2 separate regions of the Homo sapiens genome follow, and region 1 is linked to region 2. Evidence: fine-mapped expression QTL. Tissue or cell type: whole blood. Region 2 holds a variant in brackets; the other region holds the start of a gene. All regions are shown on one strand. Distances are between the middles of the regions.

Region 1 (5,145 bases), 35 kb before region 2:
ATCCTTGGGAACCTGGATGAGAGCTTAGCACACAGTAGACCCTTTATAAGTTGTTACTTAGATAAATTTTACTTCTTACTGCTCGTGTTATTAATGATTATAGAACAAACCCTGGCCTCTTCTCTCCGTTACCCAGTTTTCTTTATCTTCAAGGACTTGAGAGTGTGTGTCGTGTTTGTCTCTCTCACTGCAATGTGGGCTCCACGAGGGAAGTGGTTTGATGATTTTGTTAACAGCTGTATTCCCAGGGCCCAGAACAGCACCTGGTATATGACAGGTACTCAAAAAATCTTCGTTATTAAATTAAAGAATGGAAGGATTAGCAGAAGGAAGAATAGTAGAATAGAATCGCTCCCTTTAGGCTGGGTATGGTGTCTCTCAGCACTTTGCGAGGCCAAGGCGGGCAGATCATTTGAGGTCAGGAGTTTGAGACCAGCCTGGCCAACATGGTGAAACCCCATCTCTACTAAAAATACAAAAATTAACTGGGCGTGGTGGCACGCACCTGGAGTCCCAGCTACTCGGGAGGCTGAGGCAAGAGAATTGCTTGAACCTGGGAGGTGGAGGTTGCAGTGAGCTGAGATCGCACCACTGCACTCCAGCCTGGAGTCCAGAGCAAGACTCCATCTTCAAAAAAAAAAAAAAAAAGAATTGCTCCCTTCAATGGTCCTTTCAGACACTGGCACTCAAGAGCTTTCAGATGGGGACTCCAGGTCCCGCACAAGGACGCCAGTCCCACCACCCGGGCAAGCCCAGCCTCATCCCCCTGCCCTGCCCAACATACTTCCGGTGATGGTAATCCTCCGGCCCTGGTAGTAATCTCCCAGGGTCACAGCGTTGCCCTGCTTGGTGGCCACGACCCTGACGGTGCGCACGCTGTCCTGGCACTCAACGTAGGGGTTGTAGCCTGGGTTCCCGGCTGCCAGCTGGGCATTGAGCTGGTTGTCGACGCTGGCCGGGGAGAAGGCATCGGCGATGCGGTCCCGGCAGAAAGACTTGTACTTCCAGATGACGATGGGTTGCGTGGGGGTCGAGGTCATCTGGTAGGTACAGGGCAGGGTCACAGGCTGGAAGAGGATCACCACGTGGTAGGGGTTGGACACGGTCACCTGGATGGCCCTGGCAGGAGCTGAGGGCAAGAGGAGAGACAGCAAGGGTTGCTGTGAGCTCAGGGAGGTGCTTCAACAGGAACGCCACCTGTCACCAGCTTGACACTCGCAAGTATGTGGTTTACAGAGTGCCTGGCACACATTGTTCCTTAATTGCCAGGACCAGTGAGGTAGCCACGATAATCATGCCCATTTTATAGACCCGTGGGGCTGAAGTGGCAGGTGCACGGTGACACGGCCAGTTTCCTTGGACTCGCCCGCCATCCCTCTTCCCAGCCTGTGGCCTCTGAACCACACCAGTCCCCTCTTCCCTTTGCCATTCACCCACAACAAGGGGCCTCTGTGTGGCCTGGGCAGGCAAGCCCAGATGGCCATGTTGATGCCCCCAGCGCCCAAGGCCCCACTTCAAAACCGACTACGAAGGATTCCAGGTTACCCGGGGCCTTTTGAATTTGGAGGGAAAACCATGGAGTTGTTTGCCTGAACTGCTTTGCCATGGAGGGACTAAAGCCCCCACAATATCTCCATCAGCCTCCCACCACCTCACCCTACTCTAAAGTCATTTCAAATGACTGAACCAAAAGTGTCTCGGGAAAGACCTCATCACCACCCAAATATCCCATCCAGGTGAAAGCCTGCCAGCAGAAGTCGGTTTCAAGTCCGTAAATCCATCCCACCAGACTCTTACGCACGTATAATCCGGAGCCCGCGGGAGGTGGGTGGGGTGCGGGGGATGGGGAGTCCCCAGTCCCACACCCACCCGAGGCCTAGGCATTGTTCCTTCGTCTCTGTCCCTCTAGGAAGCGTCTGATCCAGCCCTCCCGTGCCCTCTCCCCGTTACTCCAAAACTTAGAAATCCCCGGGTGCGCCCAAGTCCCATCCCGGCTTTTCTTTTCCCAGAGATCGGGCGGTCTTCCACTCCCTCCCCACAAAGAGTTCCATTCTCCCTGCCGCTCCGGGTCTCACCGTCCAGGGAGTTTCACTTCCTGCTATCTTCCAGATAAGGGCGCGGGGAGCGCTCCCCGGCACAAATGGGGAATTCCTCTCACTCCCGCGCGCAACAGATCGCCCAAGACCCAGGGGATCGGAAGGTCCCAGCCTCTGAGACCCCCGCTTCCCGCTTCCCGCCGCCTCCAACTCCATCCATCCCCCTCTACAGTTCCCTCCGGCGTTCCGCAGCGTCAGAGGCCCCGTGCCCCGTACCTGTGCACCAGGTGCTAAGCAGAAGCCACACGAAGACGACCGCGTCCCGGCCTGCGGCGGCCGGGTGGGAGCCCAGCCCTCTGGAGAGCCCGCCGGCCAACAGCGCCATCGCGGCCGTCTGGGCGCGTCTGGCCCGCGCGTCCCTTCCAAAGTACCTTAGGGGGCGCGGCGCGCACCAAGGCCAGGAGGGGTGCACGCTCCTCCCCTTCCCACTTCCGTTCCTTGTCCCTACTCCAAGTCCGTCCTGTTGCATTCTGGAAGTTTTAATGAGCGTAAACGACGTGGACAAAGGGCATGCTTTCAGATATGGGGGAGAAAGGTGCTTGACCCGCCGCGGTCCTCCGAGCCACACTCCACCCGCTGCGCGCTCCGGTGAATGGTTCGGCCCAGGTACACAAGGGTGGGAGCCGAGGGCTGGGCTTAGGGGTGAGCGGCGGGGAGGGGTTCCTCTGCCTCCCTCCCCGGAAGTGGGCTGACCCAGGTGCGCTCCGTCCCCCAGGGCCCGAACCAAGTGACTGGCCCGCTGGGAGGGCGCCTGCGGACCACAGGTCCCTTCCGGCCCCCATCTGCTCCGGCCAAACCAAGCGCACCGAGATCCATGCAACCGAGACCCACTTGGAGCGATTCACCTGTTGAGATAGGGCGGGTCCCGCCGCGCACCTGTTCCCTCCCTGCCCAAACCCCTCTCCCCGGCTGGCGATGGACCCGCCTAGGTGCGCCCTGCCGGGAGGAGCGAGTCTAAGCAAAGTCCTGGCTGGGAGAGGCTTGTTGGTGGCGCCTGACTTCTCCACTTCCACTGGGGTTCCTCCGGACCGGGTGGAGGGGGGGCGCTTCGGGCCTCCTGTGTCTCCCAGTTAGATGACCTGAGGAACCCTCTAAAGTCCCCGGAAGGGAAGCTCTGCCCCCTCAGGGATGCCCAAGGGGAATCAGGGCCAGGAAAAGTTGGAATTCCACTTCGGAAGTTTTCGCCACCTCCCCCACCCGTTCCCAACTTGTGGTTCGGCCCCTGGGCATCCCTAGCCCCCGGGTCAGCCCTCCGGAAATTCTGGCTCTTAAAGGGGCCGAGCGAAGGCGCGGGGCTTGGGACCGGTTTCCGCTTAGGAATTCCCGGAACGAGCCACCTGCGACCGAGGGCGGGGGCGCGGCGCGGCGATCAGCCTGCGCAGCGCTGGGCGTGACTCTGCTGTCTCCAGGTGGCGGCGAGGGAAAGCGCATCCTGGGGGAACCCTGGGCGCTTCCTCGCGTTAGACTCCCCCAGGTTGCCAACTGGCCAGTGGCTGGTTTCGGTACCCAGGCGTGCTTTGTTCTACTGGCCCTGTTAAAACTCAAGCCAGATCACGTCCACCTGCTCACAGCCCTCCTGTGGCTCCTCCTCACTCTCAGCAGAAACTGACCTTCCCCCTCTTATCTCACCTCCTCCCACTCTCTCTGGCTTACTCAGCTTCGGACACCCTGGCCTCCTCGCTGTTTCCAACTATACTTCTCACAGTCCTCAGAGCCATCGCCCGTGCTACTCCCTCTGCCAGAACACCCTTCCCGCAGATGTCCACATGATCTTCCTCCTCCTGTAGGACACCATTGCAGTGACACCTTCCCTGGCCACTTTTTATAAAATTTCAACCCGTTCACGTCCCTTCATCGTTTAAAAAAATATTTTTATGATAAAATATGCAAACTATAATATTTATCGCTTTAACCACTTCAAGTGTAAAATTCAGTGGCATTAAGTATATTCACAATGTCGTGTACCAATCACCACTCTTTATCCCCGAAACTGTTTCATCATCCCCAACATAAACTCTGTGACCATTAAACAGTAACTCCCCATTCCCTGCTACCTGTGCCCCTAGTAATTTCTATTCTACTTTGCTTACCAAATTGCCCATTCTAGGTGCCTCATATAAGTGGAATCGTCTAACATTTGTCCTGTGTCTAGTTTATTTCACAAAGAATAATGTTTTCAAGGTCCATCCATGTTGTAGTATGTCGAAGCCATGTAGCATGCAGTAAGATCAAAATTTCTTTTTACAGCGGACTAGTGTACCATTGTATGTATATGCTACGTTTTATTTATCCATTCATTTGTGGATGGACCTAGGTTGTTTCTACCTTTTGACTATTGTAAATAGTGCAGCTGTGAACACTGGTGTACAAATATCTGCTTTCATTTCTTTTGAATATATGCCTAAGAATGGAATTGCTGGGTGACTTGGTAGTTCTATTTTTAACCTTTTGAGGAACTGCCAAACTGTTTTCCCCAATGACTGCACTATTGTACATTCCCACCAGCAATGCACGGAGGATTCCAATTTCTCCACATCCCCACCAAAACTTATTATCCATTTTCTTGATTATGGCCATCCTGGTTAGTGTGAAGTGGCATCTCATTGTGGTTGTAATCTGCATTTCCCCAATGACTAACGATGTTGAGCATATTTCCACGAATTTATTGTCCATTAGTATATCTTCTTTGGAGAAGTGTCTATTCAAGTACTTTGCCCATTTTTGAATTGGGTTGTTTGTTTTTTTGTTGTCAAGTTGTAGGAGTTCTATATATATTTTGAATATTAATCCCTTGTTAGATATATGATCTGCAAATATTTTCTTCCATTCTCCAGGTTTTTTCACTTTCTTGATAGTGTCCTTTGGTGCACAAAAGTTCTTAATTTGATGAAGTTCAATTTACCTACTATTTTTTCTTCCTTGTACTTTTGGTATCCTATTTATGCAGTTGTTGCCAAGTCCAATGTGATGAAGATTTTCAACAATATTTTCTTCTAAGAGTTTTATAGTTTTAACTCTTAAATTGAGTCTTTGAGCCACTTTATTTTAT
Region 2 (5,145 bases):
TACTGTTGCCTAAGAAATCATCTAAAATGGCTTAAAACAACATTGATGGATTTATCTGTCCATTCTGCAGGTTGGTAATGTAGGTTGGGCTCACTCATGTATCTGTGGCCAGCACTGTGTAGCTAGGTGGCTCTGCCTCAGGGGGCTGGATGGGCAGTTCGCTGGGGAGCCTCCAGCCTCTCATCCTCCAGCAGGCTAGCCCGGTCATGTTCACAAGGTCATGGCAAGATCAACTAAGAGAGTACATGGAAGCGGCAAGGTTTCTTGAAGTCTAGGCTTGAAACTAACACAGCATTACTTTCACCATGTTTGATTGGCCAAAAGAAATTACAAGGTCAGCCCAGATTCAAGGGGTGGAGACACAGACTCCATCCCTTGATGGGAAGAGTGGCAAAGTCACCTTGTAAGAATGTACACAAGGAGGCATGAAAGAGTGTGTCCATTCTGCAACATCCTACCACAAGCTCTCAGTAACAGCCTGGATTCTAACCCATGATGCATGTGGCCTCCACATGGCCTACTCTCTTAAGCTGTATCACTTCTTTTTTTTTTTTTTTTTTTCTGAAATGGAGTCTTGCTCTGTCGCCCAGACTGAAGTACAGTGGCATGATCTTGGCTCACTGCAATTTCCACCTTCCAGGTTCAAGTGATTCTCCTGACTAAGCCTCCTGAGTAGCCGGGATTACACATGCATGCCACCACGTCTGACTAATTTTTTTTTTTTTTTAGTAGAGATGGGGTTTCACCATGTTAGCCAGGCTGGTCTCGAACTCCTGACCTCAAGTGGTCCACCACCTCAGCCTCTCAAAGACCTGGGATTACAGGCGTGAGCCACCACACCCTGCTGTATCACTTCTGTTCCTCTCCTTAGCTTCCCTCAGCTTCTCATATAGCTTCCCTTTCTGTTATTTGAGCCCCCAAGAGCTTTCTGTATTAAAACACATTTGGCTGGAAGTAACAGACATCTGAGCAAAGCATTCTAAGCTAAGAAGGAATTTATTGGGTCTTGGAACTGAGAGCCAATACATTGAGAGTCCAGGGTTTGAGTTTTGCTTCAGGCACAGTTAGATCCAGGTGCTCACACAATGTCCTCGAAAGTCATCTTCCTCCATCTCTCTACTCCACTTTTTTTCTGCATTCCCTTAATCCTCAAGCAGATGCTTCCCACAAAGAGATGAGGTGTCCTTCAGCAGCTCCAGGATTCCATCACAGCAGCTTAGCAACCTTGATGCGGGGTGAGCACAACCACCTGTAACAAGAACATCAATGGTAGCAACAACATTGGAGTATTTACTGTGTGCCAGGCTCTCGTCTGAGTACTTGGCGGGTGTTTGCTTATTTTATCCCTATTACACCCTATAAGGTACAGATAATCATCACTCCCATTTTACAGATGAAGGAACTGAGGCACAGACATTACAGGAAAGGGGTCCGGATCCAGACCCCAAGAGAGGGTTCTTGGATCTCGCACAAGAAAGAATTCAGGGCAATTCCGTAGAGTAAAATGAAGGCAAGTTTATTAAAAAAGTAAACGAATAAAGAATGGCTACTCAATAGACAGAGCAGCCCTGAGGGCATCTGGCTGCCCATTTTTATGGTTATTTCTTGATGTTACGCTAAACAAGGGGTGGGTTATTCATGTCTCCCCTTTTTAGACCATATAGGGTAACTTCCTGATGTTGCCATGGTATTTGTAAACTGTCATGGTGCTGATGGGAGTGTCATATTGAGGACGAACAGAGGTCACTCTGGTTTTGGTGGGTTTTGGCCAGCTTCTTTACTGCAAACTGTTTTATCAGCAAGGTCATTATGACCTGTATCTTGTGCTGACCTCCAATCTCATCCTGTGAGTTAGAATGCCTAACCATCTGGGAATGCAGCCTCATTTTACCCAGCCCCATTCAAGATGGAGTTGTTCTGGTTCACATGCCTCTGACACAGAGAGATTATATCCAGGTTTAAGGTTACATTGGTTGCAAGTGGTGGAGCTGAGCGTTGAACCCAACTGGGCTGGGTCTAGAGTCCTTGCTCTTAACTATCACTAGCAGAAAAATAATAATAGCAAAACGTTTTTCAGAGCAGATAATCTGTGCCTGGCATTATTCTGAGTATCAGGAAATCATGATCATGATCAACATCCATTGAATCCTTCCAGCAGCCCCATGAGGTAGATTCTATGAGGCATTACCTTCATTTCACAGAGGGGGGAAATTGAGGTACTGAGAGCATAGACAAGCCTGAGGTCCTCTATGGAGCAGCTGGGACTTGAACCTAGGCAGCGGGGTTCCAGAGTCCACATCTGCCACCCCCAGGGCCTCATCCCTGAGTCAGGGGTGAGGTCAGCCTCAGAGAACTTCATGAAGTAAGATGGAGGGAGGGGCCCAGGACAGCCCAGCAAGCTCACGAGTCATGTGTCCACCTTTCCCTCCTCTCCCCTCTTCCCATAGCC[G/A]GGTCCAGTCTTCCCAGAATTCACCTGTGAATAGACTGACCAAATGCAAGCTGGACCAGTGGGGTGAGTCCAGGCAAAGCCAGCAAAGAGGCCAGTGGCCCAGCCTGAGCCACAAGGCGGGGCTTGCCAGGGCCCACAGTGGCTGGTGTAAACCTATGCCAAGGAGGGCATGGGGGTGGAAGGGAAGACCCCCTCATTCCCCAGGGCAGCTGGGGCTCACTTCGAGTCCTGCCTCACGCACCTGCACGTGACTATAACCTTGACACTCATCAGACCTCTGCAAAACAATCCTCGTCCACTGCCCTGACAGGAAGCCTGGGCAAGATGCCAAGTCATATTTAATGCGTTTATGAGAAACCAAGACATGGCTATTTATAGCCCTTTGATTCATCTGCCAAGTGAGAACCGGGTACATGCAATGACATCTTACGAGTGGAAAGTAGGCAATGCCGTCTGCCCCTTACCATAGACAACAGGCACACCTTGCTGCGTGGGCTCAACAGGTTCTCACGCCAACCTGTGGAAATGCCACGGACAATGGTCCCCATTCTGCAGTGCAGAAACTGAGGCTTGGGAAGGGACAGTCACTTGCTTCATGGACAAAGTGTGGCAGGGCTGGGGATGGAATCCAGGCGGACTCTTAACTCACCCTGCAAGCTGTCTCGGCTACACGGTCCACACCCCACTGTCAACTCCTTTAAAGACAAAATTCTTGGCCGGGCGCGGTAATCCCAGCACTTTGGGAGGCCAAAGTGAGTGGATCATGAGGTCAGGAGTTTGAGACCAGCCTGGCCAATATGTTGAAACCCCGTCTCTACTAAAAATACAAAAATTAGCTGGGCATGGTGGCGTGTACCTATAATCCCAGCTACTCAGGAGGCTGAGGCAGAAGAATCACTTGAACCCAGGAGGTGGGGTTGCAGTGAGCCGAGATCATGCCACTGCACTCCTGCCTGGGTGACAGAGCAAGACTCCGTCTCAAAACAAAACAAAACAAAACAACTGTTTTCTGAATAGTTCATGGGACTCTTTGGAAACATTCTGCTTGTTTCCTGCCTTCTTTTTTCAGCCCTATCTCTTCTTTCTGGCCCTCTTCCTTCTTCTTTGATATTAAAATACTTTTCTTTTTTTTTTCTTTTGAGATGGAGTCTTGCTGTGTTGCCCAGGCTGGAGTGCAGTGGTGCGACCTTGGCTCACTGCAACCTCCACCTCCTGGGTTCAAGTGATTCTCCTGTCTCAGCCTCCCCAGTAGCTGGGATTACAGGTGTGCATTACGATGCCCAGCTAGTTTTTGCATTTTTTTTTTTGAGACAGAGTCTTGCTCTGTTGCCCAGGCTGGAGTGCAGTGGTGTGATCTTGGCTCACTGCAAGCTCCTCTTCCCGGGTTCACGCTATTCTCCTGCCTCAGCCTCCCGAGGAGCTGGGACTACAGGTGCATGCCACCACGCCCGGCTAACTTTTTTCGTATTTTTTTTTCAGTAGAGGTGGAGTTTCATTGTGTTAGCCAGGATGGTCTCGATCTCCTGACCTCGTGATCCGCCTGCCTCGGCCTCCCAAAGTGCTGGGATTATAGGCGTGAGACACCGTGCCCGGCCTAGTTTTTGTATTTTTAGTAGAGATGGGGTTTTGCCATGTTGGCCAGGCTGGTCTTGAACTCCTGACCTCAAGTGATATGCCCACCTCAGTCTTCCCAAGTACTGAGATTACAGGTGTGAGCCCCCAGGCCCGGCCTAAAATGCTTTATTTCTTGTCTCTCCTTTCTTCATTCCTTTCCCCCTTCCTTTCCTCTTTTTCCTTTATTTCTTCATCTCTTTTATTCAAGGCAATAAACATGATATTAGCAATTGCTGATGTTAGAATGGGCTCACAAGTATCCCAAGTCTTCCTCGCCCAGCCTCTGTTGATTCTCAAGTACATACCACGATTCCCCCCATTTCACGGACATGGTGGGAATGCCAGGGCGGCTCCTCCCAGCTGAGTCCCCAGTGCATTTGGTTTGCTCCTGTCACTGACACCCGTGGTGTTGTGGCCACTGAGGCTGAAATCCAAAAGAGGGCACCAGAAATGCATCGAGAAAGTGCCCACCCTTGAGGAAATCTGATGTTCGATTTGTCCTTACTCTGCAGTGATCTTTTTTGGTGGGAGGTTCCTGGAGGTGTCCCCATTGCCTTTCATGGGGTCTCCTCTCTGTGCCTAAGTTTCCCCCTATGTAAAATGGGGTTAGCACTGGTACCTACCTCATTCTTATTGTTGGGAGGATTAAACTGTAAGGAGTGCTTAGAACAGTGCTTTGGCAGCATGTGCGTCACAAATGTTTCCTGTTGTTGGTGGCGCTGTTGTTATTAGACCCTGGCTTTGGAAGCTGGGTCAGACACCTAGCAAAACCCTCTGCCTGGGTGTGCCCACGGGGACTGTTCTGGGCCGCAAGCTTCCAAGCTGAAGCCTGCCCTGCAGGCAGGATGTCCGGCCTCCAACCGCAGCCTCCAAATCTTGATCAACAACTCTGATTTTATTGCCTCTCTGCCCAGATATCATCAGTGGGGGCATGGACGCTTACATGAATGCTTGGGGTCTCATAAGGGGCACTCTGCAGATTCCAAGATTCACAGCTTCTGGCCTCATGTCCTGACTGCCCCCCACTCCCAGCCCCTGGTATGCTGGTGTTGCCACAGTGTCCAGCCACCTATCTCTCCTCC

Evidence for each region. PIP is the estimated chance that this variant, and not a neighbour inherited with it, causes the effect.
Region 1: it holds the start of LSR, and the variant in region 2 is fine-mapped to the expression of LSR in whole blood (INTERVAL, PIP above 0.99).

What each region holds. Positions count from the first base shown.
Region 1 is chr19:35,246,299-35,251,443 of GRCh38, reverse strand. LSR (lipolysis stimulated lipoprotein receptor) reads right to left here and starts at 2,442. Exons shown (of 10, transcript NM_205834.4): 1 at 2,313-2,442; 2 at 785-1,129. The coding sequence starts at 2,421. RefSeq lists silencers at 2,279-2,348, 2,759-2,838 and enhancers at 1,951-2,752, 2,753-3,555, 3,689-3,858.
Region 2 is chr19:35,211,739-35,216,883 of GRCh38, reverse strand. It overlaps LOC105372379 (a long non-coding RNA gene), which reads right to left. Exons shown (of 3, transcript XR_935938.2): 3 at 978-1,249. Among named protein-coding and RNA genes, the nearest start is that of FAM187B, 14 kb to the left of the region's middle. RefSeq lists enhancers at 2,858-2,907, 2,948-3,147, 4,396-5,145. The variant G/A (reference allele first, on the strand shown) is at 2,450.